Homo sapiens: one gene and its partners. The protein of the gene in region 2 purifies or fractionates together with the protein of the main gene of each other region. This does not show direct contact. Each region holds a gene or a part of one and is shown on either strand. Other genes may lie near its edges. The genes, in order: INTS2, FPR1, URB1, BRAT1, CIP2A, DNAAF5 and THADA.

Evidence for each region.
Region 1: the proteins of FPR1 (region 2) and INTS2 purify together in Homo sapiens (co-immunoprecipitation; 2 studies listed by BioGRID and IntAct, with this or other methods). This does not show direct contact.
Region 3: the proteins of FPR1 (region 2) and URB1 purify together in Homo sapiens (co-immunoprecipitation; 2 studies listed by BioGRID and IntAct, with this or other methods). This does not show direct contact.
Region 4: the proteins of FPR1 (region 2) and BRAT1 purify together in Homo sapiens (co-immunoprecipitation; 2 studies listed by BioGRID and IntAct, with this or other methods). This does not show direct contact.
Region 5: the proteins of FPR1 (region 2) and CIP2A purify together in Homo sapiens (co-immunoprecipitation; 2 studies listed by BioGRID and IntAct, with this or other methods). This does not show direct contact.
Region 6: the proteins of FPR1 (region 2) and DNAAF5 purify together in Homo sapiens (co-immunoprecipitation; 2 studies listed by BioGRID and IntAct, with this or other methods). This does not show direct contact.
Region 7: the proteins of FPR1 (region 2) and THADA purify together in Homo sapiens (co-immunoprecipitation; 2 studies listed by BioGRID and IntAct, with this or other methods). This does not show direct contact.

Annotation. Positions count from the first base shown.
Region 1 is NC_000017.11:61,889,983-61,893,482, forward strand, and holds part of INTS2 (integrator complex subunit 2), read right to left. Parts: intron 1,708-3,500; coding exon 1,531-1,707; intron 1-1,530. UniProt on the Homo sapiens protein: Component of the integrator complex, a multiprotein complex that terminates RNA polymerase II (Pol II) transcription in the promoter-proximal region of genes.
Region 2 is NC_000019.10:51,745,273-51,748,878, reverse strand, and holds the end of FPR1 (fMet-Leu-Phe receptor), read left to right. Parts: intron 1-1,873; 5' UTR 1,874-1,884; coding exon 1,885-2,937; 3' UTR 2,938-3,106; downstream 3,107-3,606. UniProt on the Homo sapiens protein: High affinity receptor for N-formyl-methionyl peptides (fMLP), which are powerful neutrophil chemotactic factors. Binding of fMLP to the receptor stimulates intracellular calcium mobilization and superoxide anion release.
Region 3 is NC_000021.9:32,386,513-32,390,012, forward strand, and holds part of URB1 (nucleolar pre-ribosomal-associated protein 1), read right to left. Parts: intron 1-3,500.
Region 4 is NC_000007.14:2,549,025-2,552,524, forward strand, and holds part of BRAT1 (integrator complex assembly factor BRAT1), read right to left. Parts: intron 1,942-3,500; exon of another isoform or gene 1,846-1,941; intron 101-1,845; exon of another isoform or gene 42-100; intron 1-41. UniProt on the Homo sapiens protein: Component of a multiprotein complex required for the assembly of the RNA endonuclease module of the integrator complex.
Region 5 is NC_000003.12:108,554,939-108,558,438, forward strand, and holds part of CIP2A (protein CIP2A), read right to left. Parts: intron 2,477-3,500; coding exon 2,280-2,476; intron 1-2,279.
Region 6 is NC_000007.14:761,199-764,698, forward strand, and holds part of DNAAF5 (dynein axonemal assembly factor 5), read left to right. Parts: intron 1-554; coding exon 555-698; intron 699-2,607; coding exon 2,608-2,776; intron 2,777-3,500. UniProt on the Homo sapiens protein: Cytoplasmic protein involved in the delivery of the dynein machinery to the motile cilium.
Region 7 is NC_000002.12:43,589,539-43,593,038, forward strand, and holds part of THADA (tRNA (32-2'-O)-methyltransferase regulator THADA), read right to left. Parts: intron 3,353-3,500; exon of another isoform or gene 3,306-3,352; intron 2,879-3,305; 5' UTR 2,855-2,878; coding exon 2,779-2,854; intron 2,509-2,778; coding exon 2,414-2,508; intron 1,417-2,413; coding exon 1,286-1,416; intron 1-1,285. UniProt on the Homo sapiens protein: Together with methyltransferase FTSJ1, methylates the 2'-O-ribose of nucleotides at position 32 of the anticodon loop of substrate tRNAs.

The DNA of each region.
Region 1 (3,500 bases), on a different chromosome or scaffold from region 2:
ATTCAGCATTGCTGCTCCTAACTCAGGTAAAACAGGAGAAATGTTGCTGTGTGTGTATTAAACTCAAAAAAACAACATGAAATCTGAGATGGCATGAGAGATGAAAGGCAACATGCTTAAGTGGTCTTTAAGATAAGACAAAGAAAAGACTTCAGCTACTACTCAATAGCAAACCCATCAGGCTGCTTCTGAAAGACAGGAGTCCCAAGTATTATATGAAATTACCATGAAAAAAGTAACTCCTAAATAAGACATTGTATACTTAAATATATTTGTGAAAAATGCAACTGTTTTTCCCTTCTAACAAACTGGGGAAAAAATACTTTCATCAAATTTTCCCTGAATGAGCCAGGAGCAGTGGCTCATACCTGTAATCCCAGCACTTTGGGAGGCTGAGGCAGGCAGATCACCTGAGGTCACGAGTTGGAGACCAGCTGGCCAACATAGTAAAACCCTGTCTCTACTAAAAATATAAAAATTAGCCAGGCGTGGTGGCAGGTGCCTGTAATCCCTGCTACTCGAGAGGCTGAGGCATGAGAATCACTTGAACCCAGGAGGCAGAGTTTGCAGTAAGCTGAGATCGTGTCACTGCACTCCGGTCGGGGCAACAGAGTGAGACTCTGTCTCAAAAAAAAAAAAAAAAATCCCCCTAAATGAATGTAGGTGTATCTTAGATTCCCAGGATGCTAAACAAACCTATGCTGAATATCTTGATATCCCACACAGTACTTGATCAAATACACAATCTCCAGGGAACCCATTAGACTTTAAAGTGAAGCTTAAAAAAAAAAAAATTACTGGCCAGGCGCAGTGGCTCACACCTGTAATCCCAGCACTTTGGGAGGCCAAGGCAGGAGGATCACTTGAGGTCAGGAGTTTGAGACCAGCCTACTCAGGAGGCTGAAGCAGGAGAATCGCTTGAACCCAGGAAGCGGAGGTTGTAGTGAGCCGAGACTGCCCATTGCACTCCAGCCTGGGTGTCACAGCAAGACTCCAGTCTCAAAAAAAAAAAAAAAAAAAAAAAAAAAAGGCCAGGCACAGTGACTCACACCTGTAATCCCAGCACTTTGGGAGGCTGAGGCAGGTAGATCACCTGAGGTCAGGAGTTCGAGATCAGCCTGGCCAACATGGTGAAACCCTGTCTCTACTAAAAATACAAAACATTAGCCAGGCGTTGTGGCAGGCGCCTGCAATCCTAGCTACTCGAGAGACTGAGGCAGGAGAATCACTTGAACCCGGCAGACAGAGGTTGCAGGGAGGAGGAGGTTGCAGTGAGCTGAGATCGCGCCACTGCACTCCAGCCTAGGCAACAAGAGTAAAACTCCATCTCAAAAAAAAAAGTGCCTGTTTAGCAAACTACTTGGAACTAATACCATTCTTTTAATTTTTAGAGGTGATCTAAGGAAATTTAATCTAATTTTAAATTCAGAACTACCTAGAAGTCCTCTGATAGGAAAATAAAAATATGGGTTAAGTAAGAAGAACTAAAAGAAAAATAAGTTAATAGATATAAAAGAACCACTATTTTACCCCAATGACTCCTTGGAAAATATTGAGTATCTCCTGTTCTGTGACTGGCTGATTTGTGGCTTCTGGATTAGATTTCGACGCAGGAGTAAGTATAGAATTTATGTACACATCAATCAAAGGAAGTAATTGAGGATGAAGTGGAGTAGAGGTTTCACACAGCTGTCTATAAATCCAATCCTAAGAAAGAATGTTATAGACACTGAATTAATTGTGGCAAAAAGAAAAACCAAGCAAAATTATAAAAGTACATACAGTTTTACATGAATTATGAATCAGTAAAACTCACTATTAACTTTTGGCAGTTCCAAATATATTATCTAGTATCATAACTGCCTTTGATTTTAAAATATGAACTACCATTATATCTGTATCATCTTAGGTGCACCCTCCACTAGAAGCTTGCCTTTCGGTTTAATCTATTAGTTTTTAAGTAGTGGGAAAAACATTTTAAGTCCCTACCATATCTGTATTTAGAGCACCATGTGTGTCGTCATGGGAGAGCTCACGTTAGATAGGAATTTGGAGAGAGAGAGATAGGTCCTTCACAGCAAACCCTCAGATAGACTAAGAAAATGTCTCTGAAAAGCACTTACAGGAGACTTATCACTTAACTATCATTGGATGGAGGACATGTAAAATGTTGGGGGTGCATGTGAACTCTTAATTCTTAGCTATTTTACTTGCTAAAAATATAAAGCAGATGATGCAATCTGGCTGGAAAATAATCTCACTAAATCACAAAAAACAAGCAACAATTAAAAAGTGATATATCATGCATATATTATTCACTGTTCTTTGTAAATATCTGAAAAAGTTTCAGTCTACTTTACCTCCTGGGTCTTAATACCTTCTCTTTAGAGGGCCTTTTAACTTGTTAGATATAGCCAACTAAGACAAATCAAAACATGTCAAAATTCTAAGTTAGGTGTGAGGTGTCCTTATGACAAATCAACAAATACTAGTCATGGCAGCTTCCCCAATTTGTAAAACAAAACCAGGCCCACTGCAGTGGCTCATGCCTGTAATCCCAACACTTCGGGAGGCCGAAGTAGGAGAATTGCTTGAGACCAGGAGTTCAAGACCAGACCAGCCTGGGCAAAATAGCGAGACCCTGTCTCTACAAAAAAACACTTTTTAAAGCCAGGTATGAGGCCAGGCACGGTGGTTCATGCCTGTAATCCCAGCACTTTGGGAGGCCGAGGTGGGTGGATCACGTGAGGTCAGGAGTTTGAGACCAGCCTGGCCAACATGGTGAAACCCTGTCTCTACTAAAAATTAAAAAAAAAAAAAAATTAGCCAGGCATGGTGGCAGGAGCCTGTAATACCAGCTACTCAGGAGGCGGAAGCAGGGGAATCACTTGAACCCAGGAGGCGGAGGTTGCAGTGAGCTGAGATAGCACCACTGCACTCCAGCTTGGGCAACAAAGTGAGACTCCATCTCAAAAAAAAAAAAAAAAAAAAAAAGCCAGGAGTGGTGGCTCGCACCTGTAGTTCCAGCTACTTAGGAGGCTGTGGCAGGAGGACTGCTTGAGCCCAGGAGTTTGAGGTTACAGTGAGCTATGACAGCCTGGGCGACAGAGTGAGACCCTGTCTTTAAAATTAAAAAAAAAAATTAGAAAATGGCAGTTTCTAAGTTTTAATAAAATAGCCATGTGCCACTATTGAGAATTTAAATGGAGTATTATGCATTTTGAAAATCTTACATTGTTTTAAAAATCTGAAATTACTGTATAATTATATAATTATAATTACTATCCCTAATTACTATACTTATATAAATGACTAGTAACTTAGCTTAATACCACACATTTCCTACACAAAACCCACAATAAATGCCTACAAACTGAAATACAACTGGGGAGAAAGCATTAATTTAGGTTGTTCTTTGAAATATAAATGTAGGCCAGGCACAGTGGCTCACGCCTGTAATCCCAGCACTTTGGTCGGTTGAGACAGGCATATCACTTGAG
Region 2 (3,606 bases):
GTCCACGTTTGTGTGACACTAGGTCACTGAAGCTGTCGCCCACTGATTTTCTGATATCTTATGCTCTTATTTTTCCTTTATTAAATTGATGGTAAAATACAAAAAGTTAACCATTTTAGGCTGGGCACAGTGGCTCACGCCTATAATCTCAGCACTTTGGGACGCCGAGGCGGGCAGATCACCTGAGGTCAAGGAGTTTGAGACCAGGCTGGCCAACATGGTGAAACCCCATCTCTACAAAAATATAAAAATTAGCTGGGCATGGTGGCAAGTGCCTGTAATTCCAGCTACTCAGGAGGCTGAGGCAGGAGAATCACTTAAACGCGGGAGGCGGAGGTTGCAGTGAGCCAAGATCGCACCACTGCACTCCAGCCTGGGTGACAGAACGAGACTGCGTCTCAAACAACAATAAAAAAGTTACCCATTTAAATGTACAATTCAATGGCATTAAGTACATCTACAGTGTGTTGCAACCATAACCATTATCTAGTTCCAGAACTTTTTAATCACACCAAGCAAAAACTGCATATTCATTAAGCAACAATTCCCCACTTCCTAGTTTCCCCAGTCCCTGGCAATCACTAATCTGCATTCGGTCTCTGTGAGTTTGGCTACTCTGGATATTTCATACAAGTGGAATCATACAAAATGTGACTTGTGGTGTCTTCCTTCCTTCTCTCCTTCCTTCCTCCTTCTTTCCTTCCTTTCTTTTTTCTTTCATTTTAGAGACAGGGTCTTGCTTTGTTGCCCAGGCTGGAGTGCAGTGGCTCAATCATAGTACACTATTAACCTTGAATTCCTGGGCTCAAGTGAGCCTCCCATCTCACCCTTCTGAGTAGCTAGGACTACAGGTGTGTGCCACCACATCCAGCTAATTTAATTTAATTTTGTTGTTGTTGTTGTTAGAGATGAGGATCTTGCTATGTGGCTCAGGCTGATCATGAACTCCTGAGCTCAAGCAACCCTCCTACCTCGGCTTCCCAAAGCTCTGAGATGACAGGCGTGAACCACCACATCCAGCCCTCTTTTGTTTAGAGTAATGTTTTCAAGGTTCAGCCACGTTGTAGCATATATCAGTGCTTCATTGTTTTTTATGGCAGAATAATATTCCATTGGGTGGATAAACCACATTTTGTTTATCCATTCATCTGTTGATGGACATCTGGGTTGTTTCTACCTTTTGGCTATAGGGAGGAGTGTCTCTATGAACATTTTTGTTTGAATACATGTTTTCTCTATACATCTTTGGCCCCATATTCTCCTCTTGGAGGTCAAGGACCCTATCTTCCTTAGCCATTTAATCTCCCTGGTAGGGGCTTGCATGTTAGCAATTATGAGGATGTGTCATAAGATGCAATCTTGGCCACACGTGGTAGCTCACGTCTGTAATCCCAGCACTTTGGGAGGCTGAGGTGGGTGGATCACCTGGGGTCAGCAGTTCAAGACCAGCCTGGCCAACATGGCAAAACCCCACCTCTACTAAATATACGAAAATTAGCCAGGAGTGGGGTGGTGCATACCTGTAGTCTCAGCTACTCAGGACGCTGAGGCAGGGGAATTGCTTGAACCCGGGAGGTGGAGGTTGCAGTGAGAGATCACGCCACTGCACTCCAGCCTGGGTGACAGAGCAATATTCCATCTCAAAAAAAAAAAAAAAGATGTAATCTTGCCCAACAGGTACAATAAAAGATTGCCAATGTATAGATGTGGGCATGTGTAAGGGACAGTGGTGAGGATGTTCCGGCTGTTGTGGGAGCTCTAGGGGAAGGTGAGAAAGCTAGGAGTGGGAAAACTGGCAGGGGCAGAAATGAGGGGGTGGGGAAATGGTACGGAGGTTCATAACTGAGGAATGACCACGACTGCACTATTTCAGGAGCAGACAAGATGGAGACAAATTCCTCTCTCCCCACGAACATCTCTGGAGGGACACCTGCTGTATCTGCTGGCTATCTCTTCCTGGATATCATCACTTATCTGGTATTTGCAGTCACCTTTGTCCTCGGGGTCCTGGGCAACGGGCTTGTGATCTGGGTGGCTGGATTCCGGATGACACACACAGTCACCACCATCAGTTACCTGAACCTGGCCGTGGCTGACTTCTGTTTCACCTCCACTTTGCCATTCTTCATGGTCAGGAAGGCCATGGGAGGACATTGGCCTTTCGGCTGGTTCCTGTGCAAATTCGTCTTTACCATAGTGGACATCAACTTGTTCGGAAGTGTCTTCCTGATCGCCCTCATTGCTCTGGACCGCTGTGTTTGCGTCCTGCATCCAGTCTGGACCCAGAACCACCGCACCGTGAGCCTGGCCAAGAAGGTGATCATTGGGCCCTGGGTGATGGCTCTGCTCCTCACATTGCCAGTTATCATTCGTGTGACTACAGTACCTGGTAAAACGGGGACAGTAGCCTGCACTTTTAACTTTTCGCCCTGGACCAACGACCCTAAAGAGAGGATAAATGTGGCCGTTGCCATGTTGACGGTGAGAGGCATCATCCGGTTCATCATTGGCTTCAGCGCACCCATGTCCATCGTTGCTGTCAGTTATGGGCTTATTGCCACCAAGATCCACAAGCAAGGCTTGATTAAGTCCAGTCGTCCCTTACGGGTCCTCTCCTTTGTCGCAGCAGCCTTTTTTCTCTGCTGGTCCCCATATCAGGTGGTGGCCCTTATAGCCACAGTCAGAATCCGTGAGTTATTGCAAGGCATGTACAAAGAAATTGGTATTGCAGTGGATGTGACAAGTGCCCTGGCCTTCTTCAACAGCTGCCTCAACCCCATGCTCTATGTCTTCATGGGCCAGGACTTCCGGGAGAGGCTGATCCACGCCCTTCCCGCCAGTCTGGAGAGGGCCCTGACCGAGGACTCAACCCAAACCAGTGACACAGCTACCAATTCTACTTTACCTTCTGCAGAGGTGGAGTTACAGGCAAAGTGAGGAGGGAGCTGGGGGACACTTTCGAGCTCCCAGCTCCAGCTTCGTCTCACCTTGAGTTAGGCTGAGCCACAGGCATTTCCTGCTTATTTTAGGATTACCCACTCATCAGAAAAAAAAAAAAAAGCCTTTGTGTCCCCTGATTTGGGGAGAATAAACAGATATGAGTTTATTATTGACTTCTTTTTTGATTTTGGACCTCAGCCTTGGGTGGTCAGGGTGGGAAATGATAGGAAGAAGCTGTCATCTGCATCCTAGTTTGCCTGAAATGAACCCAAATAATACCCATTATTATTAGTCCTGAATTATGAGTAGTGAATGATACCCATCATTCTGGCATCATGATGAGTAGTGTCCACTTCCATTCTGAAAAGTGCCCTGCTGTGAAAAATAAATTATATAGTCATCCTAGGTAAATGAAGGAGGAGGGAGAAGTGTGAAAGAGTATGGCTTAAATCAGACAAGATATACAAGAAGATACTTTATATAGGGCAGGAGCGGTGGCTCATGCCTGTAATCCCAGCACTTTGGGAGGCCGAGGCAGGCGGATCACCAGGGGTCAGGAATTCGAGAACAGCCTGGCCAACATGGTGAAACCCTGTCTCTACTAAAAATACAAAAATTAGCTGGGCGTAGTGGCAGGCTCCCGTAATCCCAGCTACTCAGGAGACC
Region 3 (3,500 bases), on a different chromosome or scaffold from region 2:
GATTAATCCACAAGGACATTATGAACACACTTAGAAACCATGAAGGCAATAAGGAATGAGACAAACTGAGTGCCAATGTGACTCCCAGGTTTGACTACTGAGTCTGGCAATGACTCGTCTGGATCCCCATAGAGCTTTTGTTCCCTCAACTGTAGAATGGGTATAACAAGAAAAACCATATAGAGCATGGTAACGAAACATTACCAAGAGCTTTACTTACATGACATCAGCTAATTCTCACTGCAACCCTCCACCCTAGGTATGAGTATTTTTTTCCCTAGGTACTAGTATTTCACAGATGAGAAAACTGAGGCCCTTGTCCAAAGGTACACAGCTTAGGAGAGGTAGAGCCAGGACTCCAATCCAGGCAGTCGGGCTCCAGAGCCCATATTCTCCCTCCACGAACTGGATGATTCCTGCTCATGCAATGGAGCTGATGCCTGTTGCTCTGAGTGCACTGGCACACAGAGTGTCCGTGCTGCACCTGGCCCACAGTCAGTATGCCAAGCATCAGTTGACATCAGTGCTCTTTCAAAACCCAAAGGAGGGCACCCCACTAGAGTGTTTCCCCATAAGGCCACCCCAGAAGTTCCCCACTCAAAAATCTCCCCTCTCAACAGCCTGAGGATTCTACTACCCTTCCTGCAATTAATACAACCTCCCCTCCCCTACCACTGACACCTGAATCTGAACCCCCACCACAACCCCACCCTACCAACTGGGAGCCACCTGTGTGCCGCTGCCCACAGAATTCTCCTGCCAGAACCTGTTCTATAAAACTGCCTTTCAGAGAATCACTTGAACCTGCCTCTCGGAGAATCACTTGAATCCGGGAGGTGGAAGTTGCAGTGAGTCGAGATCGTGCCACTGCACTCTAGCCTGGCAACAGAGTGAGACTCCGTCTCAAAAACAAAACAAAACAAAAAAAACCCTGCCTCTCTCTGGTTCCACTCTTTGGGCCATACTTCTCAAAACTAGGAAGGCAGGGCATGGCAGTGGGTTGGAAGCCGCATGAGAGCGTAAGCTAAAGGTAACACATCTTACTGAGGCCTTCATCTCTTCTGGGGAGTGAAGACTTCACCTTATTCAAAAAAAAAAAAAAAAAAAGCAGAGGAAGGGACTAAATATTTCTATTAAAACCCACTTAGTAATGACCAATACAGTAAAATGTAAAATGCCACAAACTTTAAGAAATACACTACAGTCTTCATAGACACATCAGAATAGCGTGGTCTGCTTTAGGGAGTGTCTGGGCATCCCTAAGGGGTCCTTCCTTCTCTGCCTTGGGGCCACAGGCAATGGATCTAATCCTTCTTTCCCACACCAGCTGCCATCACCCTAGTCAGCACCTCTGAACACCAAACACTTCCTTTAACCTCTCTCCAGAAATGAGAGTTTCGAGATCCTTCTGTGTTCAGGTCACTCTCTATGTTCCCTTGAAGCATGAGGCCCAGAACAGGGCTTGGTACTGCAGGTGAGCTCCACTAGCTGAGCAGAGAGGACCAACACATGCTTCCTCTTGGACAGCAATTCTGCGTGTCTCAGATTCAAGTCCTGACGCTGCTAAGCCACATCTGCCGGGGACGCATGAGCACGCCATTACACCAAAAACATACCAGAAAAGAACAAAATTGGAGCCAGACTCCTGGGCACAAATCCCCGCTCAGTCACTTACTAGCTGCATGGTACTCAGTAAGGCACTGAACTCTGAGCTCTGGGTACCTCACCTGTATAACGGAACAAGAACAGAACCTACCTGACAGGGTTTGTATGAAGCGTAAAAAGGCTAATTTACACATAAAGCATCCAGCATCACACTTAGGTCAAGGTAAACCCTCAAAACATAAGCAGCCCCCCGGGTGTCCTCAGCAGCAGCAGTGAAAATCCAGTCACATTCGGCCTCTGCCAGCCTCACAGGTGTTTTCAGATCCCCTTTTATGCTGCAACATTTTCCGCAGCAACCACCGCCATTCCTTTAACAGTCACTGAGCAAGTGCATCTGCTATGCCAGGCGCTGCTCTGAGCTTCGGGGCCAGACTCCATTGCTGCCGTCTGCAGCGTGGTCTGGTGGTGATTATGAGCAGGCCATGGGTGTTCTGACCAAGGTGACTGTGAGTTACAGGAGCTCAGTCGGCACAGGCACCCTGGAGTTATGCATACCTACTCTGTCCCTCAAGAAAACACAGAATGCAAGTGATAGCAAGGGCTGTTAATACAGAAAGAGCAGTGCAACTACTCACTCTTTTTTAAGGAATTATTCGTCAAACTCTAGCATGTAACTCTGAGCATTCCAGAGTATTACAGGGTGGAAACTGCTGGCCTGTTATGTTTGCCGTCTTTACAGGTTCATCTTTCCATACACCATTTACTGGGCACCTACCAGGTGCACCTACAGGGGGTGCCCGAGACGTGCTGATGAGCAAATTAGAAATGGCCTCTACCCACATGGTCCTTACAATCTAATGATAGAGACCAATGTGAGTATTTATTAAGCACCTACCGCAATCACTTACATAGACACGTATAGCACCTGTAGTAAGTGCTATGAAGCAAACATCAAGAGTATAATGAGGACTGTACCTAGGGAACATGATCTAGATTAGAGGGTTGGGAAGGTTTCCTTTGAAGAAGTAATGCTGAACCTATTATTAATAATAGTAAACGTAAGTATTGAGGGGGCAGAGGGTGAGACCACATTCCAGGCCCCAAGGCTGGAGGGTACACTGGAGCCAGGTGAGTGGGGAGGGGTGACTGAGTGAGTGGGGGAGGGCAGCCTGAGATGAAGTCAAAGAAGCAGGCAGGGCTAGATGAAGCAATGGAAATGACTTTGGATTTTATCCTAAGGGCAGTGGGATACCACTGAAGGGTGTCATGAGAGGAGTGACATAATCAGATTTGGAGCTCTGAAGGATCATTTGACTGCTGCACACAGCACGGGCTGCAGGGAAGCAACAGCAAGAGAGACCAACTCTGGGCAACTCCAGCCACGGTCCCAGCAGGGACTGATGATGCCTGGACTAGAATGATGATGAAGGAAAGAGGGGGAGCAGACAGATTCCAGAAATTCTCAGGAGGAGAATCAACCACCAAGGCCAGGGGACAGACTGATGCAGACGGAGGGTTCTGGCAGGAACATCCAGCTAATCAGAATTACCACTTATGCAGTGGGGAAACCAGAAGCAATGTGGGGAGAAGGAGATCAAGAGTTTAACCATTAGTGTACTCTCTTACAGTATGGCCTTTTCTCTATCACCAGTGGAGTCGTGGGCAAACACTTTCAAAGGAACTGGCTTAGAGCCAAACCCTTCTTGATGGGGGATCTTCCCACAGGCTGACACTGATCCACTCTGGAATATCCTCAGTCCTTACCAATCTAACCTGGCAGCTCTTGTTCCTCCACTACACGAAGGGAGCATCATCAGAACCCTTCCCTCACATGCCTGGTGAAAACAAAGTCTCCTAACAGCCATCAACTTCACTTCCCTGATCTTCCAGCAATC
Region 4 (3,500 bases), on a different chromosome or scaffold from region 2:
TGTTGAAGGGTTTTGAAACAAAACAGAATTAAAATACTAACGACAATAATAGAAGGTTGTGATGGCCTGAAGTTCAAGTGCTCTGAGGTCCTTCGGTTGCCTGGATAGAGAATGGAAAGTCTAATTAACTTCAGACTTTTTAAAAAATCCGGTTCTCATGTTAAAAATATAAGGGTAGCCACTGAAGAACACAAATAAGCCTGTGGTCCCAGCATCTTGAGAGGCCGAGGTGGGCAGATTGCCTGAGCCCAGGAGTTTTAAGACCAGCTTGGGCAACACAGGAAGATCCCCTCTCTATAAAAATTCGCTGGGCATGGTGGCGCGCATCTATAGTCCCAGCTACACTGGAAGCTGAGATGGGAAGATCACCTGAGCCCAGGAGGTCAAGGCTGCAGTGAGCCGTGATTACACCACTGTCCTGGACAACAGCACAAGAACTTGTCTAAAAAGAAGAACATAAATAGAATGTATAACTTCAAAACCAGAAGAGGAAAGATTTAAAAGAAAAAAAAAAGCTTTATCAATCTGATGGAGGGCAGAAAAGGAGGATAAAGGCACAAAGGTAAGGCACAGGAAATTAAAAAATACAAAAGAATTCAAATCTAACAGTCGCCTCAACAAATTAAAGAGATCAAACTTATCTGTTAAAAGAAAGAGTTGCTGAGATTAAATTAAACACTAAAAACAAGCAATGTGGTGTTTCTAAAAGCAATAAAATGCAACGACAGGAAAGGCTGGGAGCAGGAGAGAAAAGACACAGTAGGCAAATTCTAACTTTAAAGAAGCTGATGTAGCAACAGAAATAGCAAACAAAATGGGCTGTAAAGCAAAAAGCAGTATTCATGCAGAAGTAAGTTAACTGATCACGGAGATAAATTCCAGAAAGACACAACATTCCTACATCTATGTATACCTAACCTCACTTCAAAACGTGTAAAGCAGCCTGGGCAACGTGGTGAAACCCCGTCTCCGCAAAAAAATACAAAAAATTAGCTGGGTGTGGTGGTGTGTCCCTGTAGTCCCAGCCATCCAGGAGGCTGGGGTGGGAGGATCACTTGAGCCCAGGAAGTTGAGGCTACAGTGAGCCGTGATCACACCACTGCACTCTAGCCTGAGTGACAGAGTGAGACCCTGTCTCCAAAAAAAAAAGAAAAAAAAAATGCCAGGCACAGTGCCTCACACCTGTAATTGCAGCGATTTGAGAGGCCAAGGCGGGCAGACTGCTTGAGCCCAGGAGTTTGAGACCAGCCTGGGCTACATAGTGAAACCCCGTCACTACAAAAAATACAAAAACTTAGCCGGGCGTGGTGGCGGGCTCCTGTGGTCCCAGCTATTAGGGAGGCTGAGGTGAGAGAATCATCTGAGCCCAAGAAGTCGAGGCTGCAGTGAACCGAGATCATGCCACTGCACTCCAGCCTGGGCAATAGAGCAAGACTCCATCTCAAAAAAAAAAAAACAAAAAAAAAAAAAGAAAGAAAAGAAAAAGAAAAAAATAATATGTAAAGCGAAAAAAAAAAAAAGGATGCATCTCAAAGAAAAATCATGAATCCATGATCTTGGTGTAAGCTTTTTACACACCTCTCAGAAACAAGCAAACAAATTAGCAAGAACATAGCAGGTCTGAACTAATGAACGAGTGTGGAAACTACACTCTTTCCATCAAGTACAATGCAGGAGAAATGACAGAGGCTGGGAGGGAGGAGGAAACAGGGACTCACTGTGAACCCAGACTCGGTTTCTTTAGGGGGAACAAAATTAGATTGTGCTGATGATTTCAGAGCCCTGTAAATTTACTAAGAACTGTTGAATTGGTACCATTTATTTATTTATTTTGTCCATTTCTCATGTCAGACGGGTCACGTACCGACATCATACCAGGGTTCCATGGTGCCACATCTCACACATGCGCCTGAACACTCAATTATCATGCTTAGGTTGGGTGCAGTGGCTCTCCACTGTAACCCCAGCACTTTGGGAGGCCAAGGTGGAGGGATCACCTGAGGTCAGGAGTTCGAGACCAGCCTGGCCAACATGATGAAATCCCACCTCTACTAAAAATACAAAAATTGGCCGGGCATGGTGGCATGCACCTTTAATCGCAGGTACTCAGGAGGCTGAGGCAGGAGAATCGTTTGAAACCCAGGAGGCGGAGGTTGCAGTGAGCCAAGATTGTGCCATTGCACCCCAGCCTGGGCAACAGAGCAAGACTTGGTCTCAAAAAAAAAAAAATCTATATCTATATATATATCTATATATAGATATATATATATCTCATGCTTACAAACTGTAAAAGGATCTGGTACACCTTAAATGGGAGAATGGCATGGTATGCAAATTATATCTCAATAAAGCTACTGAAAAATACTTCTTAAAATTTAAATACAGGCCAGGCATGGTGGCTCGCTCCTGTAATCCCAGCACTTTGGGAAGCCCAGGCGGGAAGACTGCTTGAGCCCAGGAGTTCCAAGCTGGCCTGGACAAGATGGTGAGACCTCATCTCTATGGGAAAAAAAAAAATAGCTGGGCCTGGTACACACCTTGATCCCAGGAACTCAAGAGAATGAGGCAGGCGGACTGCCCAGGAGGTCAAGGCTGCAGTGAGCCGTGTTCACGCCATTGCACTCCATCCTGGGTGACGCGCAAAAACCCTGGCTCAAAAAAAAAAAAAAAGAAAAAGAAAAACTGACTACTACAAACTAGGCCACAGTTGAAGACCTTCAAATACCAAAACATCAAAATCATATAGTGAAATCTCTAGAACATTGAGAAAACTCGCCTGGGTCCTATGTCTCAATAAAAGTCTCAACAGCTATAAAGATTCAAAACATATGTTATGTTTTCTAACCTCCACAAAGTAAATTAAAAATCAATAATAAAAAGACTGGAAAAATCCATATTTTGAAACTAAAGGATACTCTTTTAAGTAACTTGTGGGTGAAAAAAAAATTATAATGAAAAGCATAAAATACTCAGAACTAAATTAAAACCAAAGTACTGCAATGTAAAACGTGTAAGATGTAGCTAAAGTCATACTTTTAGAGAAATGCATAGTCTTAAATATATATATATATATATATATATATTTTTTTTTTTTTTTTTTTTTTTTTTTTGAGACAAGAGTCTCACTCCATTGCCCTGGCTGGAGTGCAATGGCGTTATCTCGGCTCACTGCAACCTCTGCCTCCCAGGTTCAAGTGATTCTCCTGCTTCAGCCTCCCGAGTAGCTGGGATTACAGGCATGGACCACCATGTCAGGCTAATTCTTGTATTTTTAGTAGAGACGGGGTTTCACCATGTTAGCCAGGCTGGTCTCCAACTCCTGACCTCAAGTGATCTGCCTGCCTCAGCCTCCCAAAGTGCTGGGATTATAGGCATGAACCACCGTGCCTGGCCTTAAATATATATATTAGAAAACAAGGAAGACCTAGATATTTAGCTCAAAGAGGGTAAAAGGCACTTTGGGAAGCAGAGGCAGGTGACTGCCTGAGCCCAGGAGATCG
Region 5 (3,500 bases), on a different chromosome or scaffold from region 2:
TATTTCACTAAGCACAAAGATTTTTAAAAAGCAACCCAAAAACCAAACCAAAACAAACAAAAAAAACCAGTAGCCAAACTTGGCCAGCAGTTTTTGTATCTAATCCATACAGGAATTTTAACAATCTGAGTTTGAGTGCCTTTAGACAGTCCTGACCATTACAAATGACCTTTTCCCCAGCCAGCTTCATTTACATGTTATCCACTTGTCCATTCAAGGAATTTCACCTTCTAGCCCCTAAATCACTAGCTGGAACATAAGCAGGTCTTAGAAACCACGTATTTTTCTTGGACGCTGCCTATCTCTTAGGTTCTCTATGTGAGACAAAGCAGGTATCCCCTTTTTAGGAGGTCTGAGGACCTCAAGCTGGAAAATAAAGGAAAATCCTGAGTTCACTCAAGGGAAATTCCAGGGACCTAGATAGCCCTAGAAGTAAATAAGTAACTTGTTAAACAGGAAGGTAATAGTAGCCTAAATCAAAGTTAACAAACTTAAGAGTACCAGTGATACTTGATTCTTTATAGAACTTAAAGAAAACAACTTAACACATGTCCCTGAGTTGTATTTCAGAGACCCGGACCCTCATTGAGGAAGCCCACTGACCAGATCCATTGACAAGTAGAGCTCAGGTAAGGAGAAAATGAAGGCTGAATTTTAACCACTGTTCTTTGTTCTAAGTTTCTTTCTCAGGGTCTTGAACAAAGTCACTCTCCCTAGCTAGTTAACATTTTTCTACTGACCCCAAATGTTTAAACAAAGCTGCTCTTCCTTAACCAACTGCAAATCGAAAAATCTTTGGGTCTACCCATGACCTGTAAGCCCCTGCTTCACAATATCCTGTCCTTTAAACTTAAACCAATGTATAACCTTTAACTATTTATTTATGATTTTTGTCTGTAACTTCCACTTTCCTGAAATTTACTCGCCTTTAAAAATCCTTGCTTGCAAGCTATTGGGGAGGTCAGTATTTGAGCATTTGGCTGCCTGCTCCTCCTTACTTGGCACCCTGCAGTAAAAGCCTTTTTTTCTATCACTGCAAACCTTGGTGCAGATACCTGGTTTTACTGTATTGAGCAAATGGAACCCATTTCAGTTCTATAACGTATTTTCTTCACTGCTGACGTTCTCAACTTGGCTTATCACTAATACTACACTTTATCAGTGGTGCCTCAAACAATCAGACTTTGTAAAAAGTTGCTGGGGTAAATATCCTGTTAAAAAATCACTTTGTCATCATTTTCTAGATACTATTCATTTCTCACCCTTCATTATTATTGATGGGAAATAAGCATATGTACCATGCCAAGCTAAAAATTTCTATATCTCTGTATTAACAACATAGAACAATCTTAAAATATAAAGCAATAAACAAGTTCCCCCAGAGTGTATTTACTTTTATGGGTTGGTAGAAAATACATAATTGTTCCTGGTCTTCCCTGTAATTCAGAAGTTTTACAACTGGCCTAAAAAGATAAAAGAGTTTATAAGGGAGGAAAAACCAATCAAACTTTGCTAGTAGGCACACAAATTGGTACAGGTTGAGCAACACTAATTTGAAAATCCAAAATCAGTCTAAAATCAAAAGTGCTCCAAAATATTAAACTTTTTGAGTGCTACCATTGTGTTCAAAAAGGACACTCAATCTGTATCACATTTTGGAGGAAAATTTAGAAATATCTATCAAAATATTAAATATACATACCCTTTAACTTAGCAATTCACCTATGTGAACTTATTCTACAGATGTAATCACACATGGAAGTAAACTATAATCAAGGATATTAAGAGATGAGTTAAACACTTACACCTAAATTTCCATTCTATTAGGCAGAATGATATGAAATTGCCAATATTCAACTACTTTTGATCTGCAGAAATGACCATTCAACCTAATACTAATTTGACAACTAAGTTTATTTAAAAATTATTAATGAAGTGCCTAACTATGCAGCAAGCACTCCTACAGGCCCTAGGGATCTGTCAGTGATCAAAACAGACAAACTTGTCCTTGTGGAGCTTATCTCCCAAATGACTGCTGACTGTTATGAATACATAAAAGAAGTCAACTGGAAAGACCTGTATTTTGTTTCCAACATTGATACTGAGTTTGAGGAAGCAACACTTCATTTCACAATGACTTAAGTTTCTTGCTAATTACTTACCTCATGTGTTATCAGAATATATGAAATGCTTACAAAAGGATTTTCGGGTCTCAGAAAAGAAATGCTGCATGTTCATTCTAGGTTCTAACCTTACACAGAAGATTTTACTTTATTTACCTCTGAAGAAGTTCCATGTAGGATTTTGTCAGTATTTCATGTTCTTCAGCCACAGACTCTAACTTCCTATTATGTTGAAAGAGATGCTCAATATCACTCTGCGCTCTTTCTGATTCAACTTGCTGCGCCTTCAGCAACACACTAAGCTCTTCATTTTTTCTCTCAACTTCTCTCAACATACTAGCAAGTGTCCGTGCCTCAAAAAAAAAAAGAAGATAGACTTTACCACTATCATCTATATCATATGCTCAACACATACCTACAATTTAAAAGTTTACTAAGTATCTAATAAGCTGGTATCTGTTGGGTCATGCAAAGCTGTATTAGTCACATATACTTAGGACTTTACTTCTAATAAGTTGGATACTGTTATATTTTTTTAACTTAATACATTATCTGATAAAAACAATCTCACTATGATCAAATTAATGGAAATGGATACAACTGCAGCAACATGAAGGTCGCGCTACATACAGTATTCAATTAAAAAGGTATGGTCCTCAGAGGTAGCCATTAACACTAAACTGCTAAGTGTGCACACCATCAGCATTCTCATTTCAGGTGAGAATTAAGAACAAAATCTTAACGACATCACAGATGCTTAATCAAACACTTAAAATTAAGCTAGTATAATCAAAGAATGTAACCTATACCATAACCTGCATGTATTTATTATGTGATATGAAACACTAAAAAAGCAGAAAAGTCGCTAGAATAAAAAGTTGGTTCCCCCCAGCCCTTTGGATTTTATTTTACAATGCTAGACAAAACCCTAAGCCTTTCTCTGTTTTTACGACTTTGTGAAGAACCTGTATCCAGTTATTTAGTGCTATTTTTATAAGAACTTTTCCAGTAACATGAATAAAATATTAAACTCTCTAATAAAATACAAGACATGTCCAACAGACAGAAAATATAAGAATGTGCTATGGGGAGAGGGAAAAATTATTTTAATATCACTAATGTTCTTTCTTGTAATTTGTGACAAATTCAACATACCAGTTAAGACAAATGAAACCATGTTAAAATAAGCAAAAAAGAAAGAAATATGGGGGAAAAAAAGAATACCATTATTCTGAAGAGACTTAAGAGGCATTTTACTAGTCACTTATTTTGATGCATCTTTCAAAAGCCAGGAACACTTTATTATAATTCATTCATTATAAATAATATCAAGTTGTATAGATTCCATTTGTATCTGCTGGGAATTTCATATTACTG
Region 6 (3,500 bases), on a different chromosome or scaffold from region 2:
TCAACAAGCACGCCCTTTTATGGTTGACATGCCGGCACCCTACCTCCAGCGCCTGGGGGCTCTCCCTGCAAGGGCTCTCCCATGGCTGCTGCCCCTCGTGAGCCGTAGACTAGGAGCCCCGGGCGGGCTCTGTCGGCCCTGACACTGGGGCCGGAGCGGGAGCCCTGTATTAGTCCATTCTCATGTCGCTAATAAAGATCTACCACAGACTGGGTAATTTATAAAGAAAAAGAGGCTTAATGGACTCAAAGTTCCACATGGCTGTGCAGGCCTCACCATCATGGTGGAAGGCAAAGGAGGAGCAAAGTCACGTCTTACGTGGCGGCAGGCGAGAGAGTGTGCAGGGGAACTGCCCTTTATACTAACATCAGATCTCGTGAGACTTAATATCAAGAGAACAGCACGGGAAAGACCCACCCCCATGATTCAGTTCCCTCCCACAGGGTCCCTCCCAGGATACGTGGGGATTATGGGAGCTACAGTTCAAGATGGGATTCGGGTGGGGACACGACCAAATTGTACCAAGCTCTGACGGTGCTGCCGGTCTCTTCCAGGACCTCTACCTGGAGCGCCTGCTGCTGTGTGTGCAGGCTCTGGTGTCTGTGTGTCATGAGGACTGTGGCGTGGCCAGCCTGCAGCTCTTGGACGTGCTGCTGACAATAGTGGCCCTCGCAGGTGCTACCGGCCTGAGGGACAAGGTAAGGCTGACAGTGGTGGCTGCTGCTTGACCTAGCGGAGCTCACAGCTGGAAGGCATCTCTAAGTGAGGTGAACTGTCTCCTATGCATCCCCTCTGTGCTTGACCAGCAAAGACCAGGGATTGAGAACCTTGCGGGTGAGTCCCCGGGCAACGGCCTTCGGGGCAGCTCTCCAGCTGCCAGTGTATTCTGGCATCAGGGAGTGGAGACAGCTGTTTAATGTTAGGGTCTTCAGCAAAGAAGCAAACAAGAAATAAGACGTAACCTTTAAACCTGCGCACTTGAGTAGGGTTTAATAGTGCACATGTCGCTGGGCGTGGCATCTCACGCCTGTAATCCCAGCACTTTGGGAGGCCGAGGTGGGCGGATCACCTGAGGTCAGGAGTTTGAGACCAGCCTGACCAACATGGTGAAACCCCGTCTCTACTAAAAATACAAAAAATTAGCCAGGCGTGTTGGCATGTGCCTGTAGTCCCAGCTACTCAGGAGGCTGAGGCAGGAAAATTGCTTGAACCAGGGAAGCAGAGGTTGCAGTGAGCCAAGATCGTGCCACTGCACTCCAGCCTGGGCTGAGCAACAGAGCGAGACTCCGTCCAAAAAAAAAAAAAAGTGCATGTGCATGTGTGACTGAGTCGAGAGAAGATACCGTGATTTCCCGCTCTCATTGCAGCACAGCGTTCAGAAGTACTTCTCGCCCATGGGCTCCCTGTTTATGCCCAAAAATCATCTTTTTTCTTCAGTGGAGTCTCGCTCTGTCACCCAGGCTGGAGTGCAGTGGCGCGATCTCGGCTCACTGCAACTTCTGCCTCCCAGGTTCAAGTGATTCTCCTGCCTCAGCCTCCTGAGTAGCCGGGATTACAGGCGCCCACCACCATACCCGGCTAATTTTTATATTTTTAGTAGAGACAAGGTTTTGCCACGTTGGCCAGGTTGGTCTCAAGCTCCTGACTGCAGGTGATCCACCTGCCTCAGCCTCCCAAAGGGCTGGGATCATAGGCATGAGCCACCGCACCTGGCCATTATGCCCAAAAATCTTTTAACCCCAACCTTCTAATGGGCTTCTAGGGCCCCTGGAGGCCCCAGTATCTGTCTGCCTCTCTGGAAGCTGAGACTTAGTTCCTCCTCCCATTCTGTCTCTGTGGACAGCCCCTCTCGGCAGATTCTCTCTCTGGGAGATTTACGGCCTGAATGTACTATGGGGAACCTGGTGTGGAGGAGGCTGCTGCCCTCCCCTTCCTTCTTGGGGCCTCTAAAAACAAGCTTCCCAAGGGGCGTGTGTCTCAGCAGATGCTGTCACTGTTAGGGCCTGAGGTACCAGCAAAAGCAAAGTCTTTGCCTGCTGGTCATGGGGGACGAAGCCAGGTAGCCCCAGATTCAGACTCCAGGCTTGGGGCAATGGCCACCGGGGAGCCTCAGCCCTTCCTCTGTTCCTAAGCCCCCAAGGAGAGCAGCCAGCTAAAAGTAAAAGGTGGCCAAGGTTATCATCTCTGTCTGCCCAGTTACTTTTACCTGGAGGTCTGGTCTGCTGGGCTTAACTCTTTAAGCCACTTGCCCGCCCCTCTCTGCTCCTCACCACCTCAGAGGAGCCCTGCCTGCCCAGGCGGACACCACGTCCGTGTAAGCCCCAGGACCACCTGTGCTGTGTGCATCCCAGTGTGCACAGTGCCTGCTTCATGATTCGCTGCAGAGACGGCGTTGGTGTGAACGGGATCAGGGTCTCGCCCTGCACCCGCGGCTCTCGCTCTCCTGCACCCTGGGCGGGGCTCCCTGTGGCAGCCTCCCTCCCGATTATCCTGGCAGGCCCGGCCTGTGTGGTTCTTACGCGTGAGGGGGATAGTGAGTCCCAGCAGGCAGGCAGGCTTGAGCCCTGAGTGTTGGAATTGTCTCAGTCTCTGACTTGTAACCTCCAGGCACAGGAGACGATGGACTCACTGGCCATGGTGGAGGGTGTCAGCAGCTGCCAGGACCTCTACCGCAAGCACATTGGTCCCCTCCTGGAGCGGGTGACCGCGTCGCACCTTGACTGGACCGCACACTCGCCGGAGCTCCTGCAGTTCAGTGTCATCGTCGCACAGTCAGGTGAGCCGTCCCGACAGCTGGCGTGCCGTGCCTGGCCCCACTCAGGCTACACACCTGCTCCCCCAGGTGCTCAGCAGGTACCAGCGCCGACCAGCTGAGCTGTGGTTCACTGAAGCGTGTTGTTAAAAGTACCCAATAGTCACTCTTGCCTGGGGAGAAGCAGCATTTTAAGGAGCATCGCATTGAAGACTGTGGGACGCAGCTCTTCCACTTGGCCCGGGCACACGCTTTCATGTGAAACCTTCAAAGTGTGCTTTTCCGTGGCCTGTTTTGTAGCCTGGCTTCTTAAATACGTCTGGATTTTGTTGCAGAATCTAGATGTCTAGCCGCATGGGTGCTGTGTGTGTGACATGGGGGCCTTAGCCCCAGCCCCTCTGAGACCAGCATTTCTGTGGTTCTCTTTGAGCCTGCGGATCAGCCACTTTTCCTGGGATGGACAGTGTGGCCCAGTGGGGCTTCAGCGCGGGGCAAGATCCACTGCAGAACCCTAAGGAGACGTCCGCTCAGCAGCCATAGTGCCTTGGGACACACGGCCCGCGCTGCTCCACGGGCCGTGAACTCGCCGCGGTAGCTCTTCCTCGTTTGCCTCCCCGGCCCTCCCGCTCCCGCCTGCAGCTCCGAGTGCCCCCGCCTCCTGTTGGATGTGTGCACCAGGGTGGTCGTGCTCTGCATCTGAGGATGCTAAGATCGTTCTTACACAATCTCTGTGCCTGGTAGGGACTCA
Region 7 (3,500 bases), on a different chromosome or scaffold from region 2:
ATGAATACACTTAACAATAGCGAACTATGTACACTTAAAAATGGTTAAGACTCAAACATCATATGTTCTCACTCATAAGTGGAAGCTTATCTATGAGGATGCAAAGGCATAAGAATGATACAATGGCCTTTGGAGACTCAGGGGAAAGGGTGGGAAGGGGGTGAGAAATAAAAGACTACAAATTGTTGGGTACAGTATACACTGCTCAGGTGATGTGTGCACCAAAATCTCAGAAACCACCACTTATTCATGTAACCAAGTACCACCTGTTGCCCAAAAACCTATCGAAATGAAAATTAAAATTTAAAAAAAAAGAATTCATAAAAAAAAAAGGTTAAGACTGAGTTTTTATGTTATATGTCTTTTACTACAATTAGGATTTTATGACATGGAAATATCTCTAAGACATTCTTTAGTGAAAAAACAAGCTACAGAGCATTCTGTAGAGTATAATCTCGTTTACAGATATATATAAAAAAAGTAGAATGTAACACACATATGCTGACCTCAAAGAGAAGGTCTAGAAAGATAAATACCAAAACGGTAAGTGACAATCTTTACTAAGAAAAGTAAGATAAGCCCTAAACAATGAAATGGAAGCCTTAGTTTTTATTTTGTATAGTTCTATATCATTTGAAATTTTTATACCAAGCCTATATTCCTGTGTTATCTGTGTAAATATATATTTAAACCAAGAACAGATAGGACAAAAAGAGGAAAAAACAGCAAGATGACATTTAAACATAACCAATAAATGTAAATGGATTGAGGCAGGAGTAAGCAAACTACAGCCCACAGCCTGTTTATTAAGCATGTGACCTAAGAAGGCTTTTTATACTTTTAAAAAGTTGTAACTAGGCTGGGCGCAGTGGCTCACACCTGTAATCCCATCACTTTGGGAGGCTGAGAAGGCGGATCACAAGGTCAGGAGATCAAGACCATCCTGGCTATCATGGTGAAACCACATCTCTACTAAAAACACAAAAAATTAGCCGGGTGTGGTGGCTGAGGCAGGAGAATGGCGTGAACCCGGGAGGCAGAGCTGACAGTGAGCCAAGATCGCACCACTGCACTCCAGCCTGGGCGACAGAGCTAGACTCCGTCTCAAAAAAAAAAAAAAAAAAAAAATAGTTGTAACTAATCAATGAAACAGAGAACAAACCATATGAATGAACTTTTTGTGATCTGTATCAGTTCAGTTTTATCAAACCAAGGAAGGAACTTCAGTTACTTTTGGTCAAATTCAACATTTATAACACCCAACTTCCCTTCCTTTTTTTCTTACCTTGCCAATACTTTCTTCAAGGGATTCTTTAGACTCAAAGAAAGATAAATGCCTGCTAAGATATCCAAACAACTTTGAATAGTGGGATCACACATGCCATTTTTATCTGCTTTCTCCAGCAGAGGCACAATCTATAATACAAAACATTGAAGTAATTTTTATAATATCAAATATAGCAAAGTAACATGGTTACAGATACTCTTTGAAGTCTCAATTGCTGGGTACAGTGGCTCACCCCTGTAATCCCAACACTTTGGGAGGCTGAGGTGGGCAGATCGCTTGAGCCCAGGAGAGTTCGAGACAAGCTCGGGCAACATGGTGAAACCCTGTCTCTACAAAAAAATACAAAAATTAGCCAGGCATGGTGGCACATGCCTGTAGTCCCAGCTACTCAGGGGGCTGAGGCAGGAGGATTGCTTGAGCCCAGGAGGTTGAGGCTGTGGTTGAGCCAAGATCACACCAGTGCACTCCAGCCTGGGTAAGAGAGTGAGACCCTATCTCAAAAAAATAAATAAAACAAAGTGTCAATTACGTGAAATGTTTTCCATACTCCACTGTCAAGGATACTGATTTAAACACCTATTTCACTATTTATTAACTTTTTAAACTCATGTCCCCACCTCCCTCTTTACCCTCCAGACCCACCTCCACAGAGAATCACAGACCTGTTAATGGCTTACAGTAAAGAACAGCTGTAGCACTATTAAAAAACCAGTAATACATTTACTTGCTTTCCAAAAAAAAAAACTATGTGTGCTCAAATGGTAAATCCTAATACTGAAATACTAATAAGTATAATCTTTATATTTTAAATTAACTTTTAAATGTGTCTGCTAAAAAGTTTTGAAGATTCATATATTTTAAAATTTATCTCCACAAAAGAGGTATGCACATTATCTTCTACCTTATCTGTTTACAGTTCAATTATGATAGAAGTCTGAATATGGCTTCTATTGCTGCTTTGAATACAAGGATATTATACAATAAACAGAAAAAAAAAAATACTTATTTGCTAATGATAAACTGATATGCAATAATTAGGGACCAAAAACTGTCAGTGATTTTTTTTAAATCCTTAATAGCATGATACTCTTAAAGATGCATCCATGAATATCAATTCAGACTTACCTGTTTAATATAATGGATTTGTGACACTCCATCCGTGAGTTGCACACAATGTAACAGCAAAGAAGCTAGATTTTTCCCTTCCACATCAGCAAAAGCTATATAACATATACAAAAAAAAATTTTCAATGATTTAACAGTGAGTTAACTTTGCCTTTGTTGTGCATTCTACAAAATTTTTTAATTATAAACCATAGCAATAGGTGGAACATAGTCTGAAGACAGAATTTTAAGAAAATTGTTTTACATCCAAAACATAAGGAAAAATATAAAGAATTTGAATATTATATGCTAGGGGTCCCAGTCATTAAAATACTCTGCTTGCAAACTAGAAAAAAATATAATAAGGGAAACCAGAAGTCACCTACATTTCAAAGTTTCAAGGTCCTGATGGCAAATGGTCAGCGCAGCAACTTGCATTTCTTTCTTCTTCTTTACACCCATTTTAAATAGAATTAATAGTAGTCACTGCAAGAAAGAAGACTTTAAGGCATTAATGTAAGGTTTCTCAACCTCAGCACTATGATTTTTGGCTGGGTTCATTCTTTGTTGAACAGTATCATCCTATGCATTATGTTTCATGCATCCCCATCTCTACCCACTAGATGCCAGTGGCACCCTCCTCCCTCCCAAGTTCTGACAACCAAAATATGTCTCCAAACACTGTGAAGTGTCCCCTGGGGAGCAAAACTGCTCCAGAATGAGAATCACTGTCTAAGAATTTCTGATTTGAAGAAGAAAAATGTTTTAAGCTGAAGCTTATTACTGACTGAAGTTATTTTACCTACTATGACTCAGTCTTTGTATTTTAAAATACAGCAAACTTTCCTTTTAGTGAACATACACACAAAAAAACTGGGATAGTTTTTCCAAAGATAAAATACTTCAAACTAACCTCAGTGACTCATTAGACTAAGAGGAGGTACTACCGTGTCCTGATTTCTGCAAAAATGAAAAAAAATATTTTTTTAATGCTATTCTCTTGAGTTTGCTTTTATCGATACTTAACAAATCAACGGGTTCATAACAGGCTAAACAACCCAACTCAGAGACTACACAACTACACACTAATAGTACCATGCCATCTGGA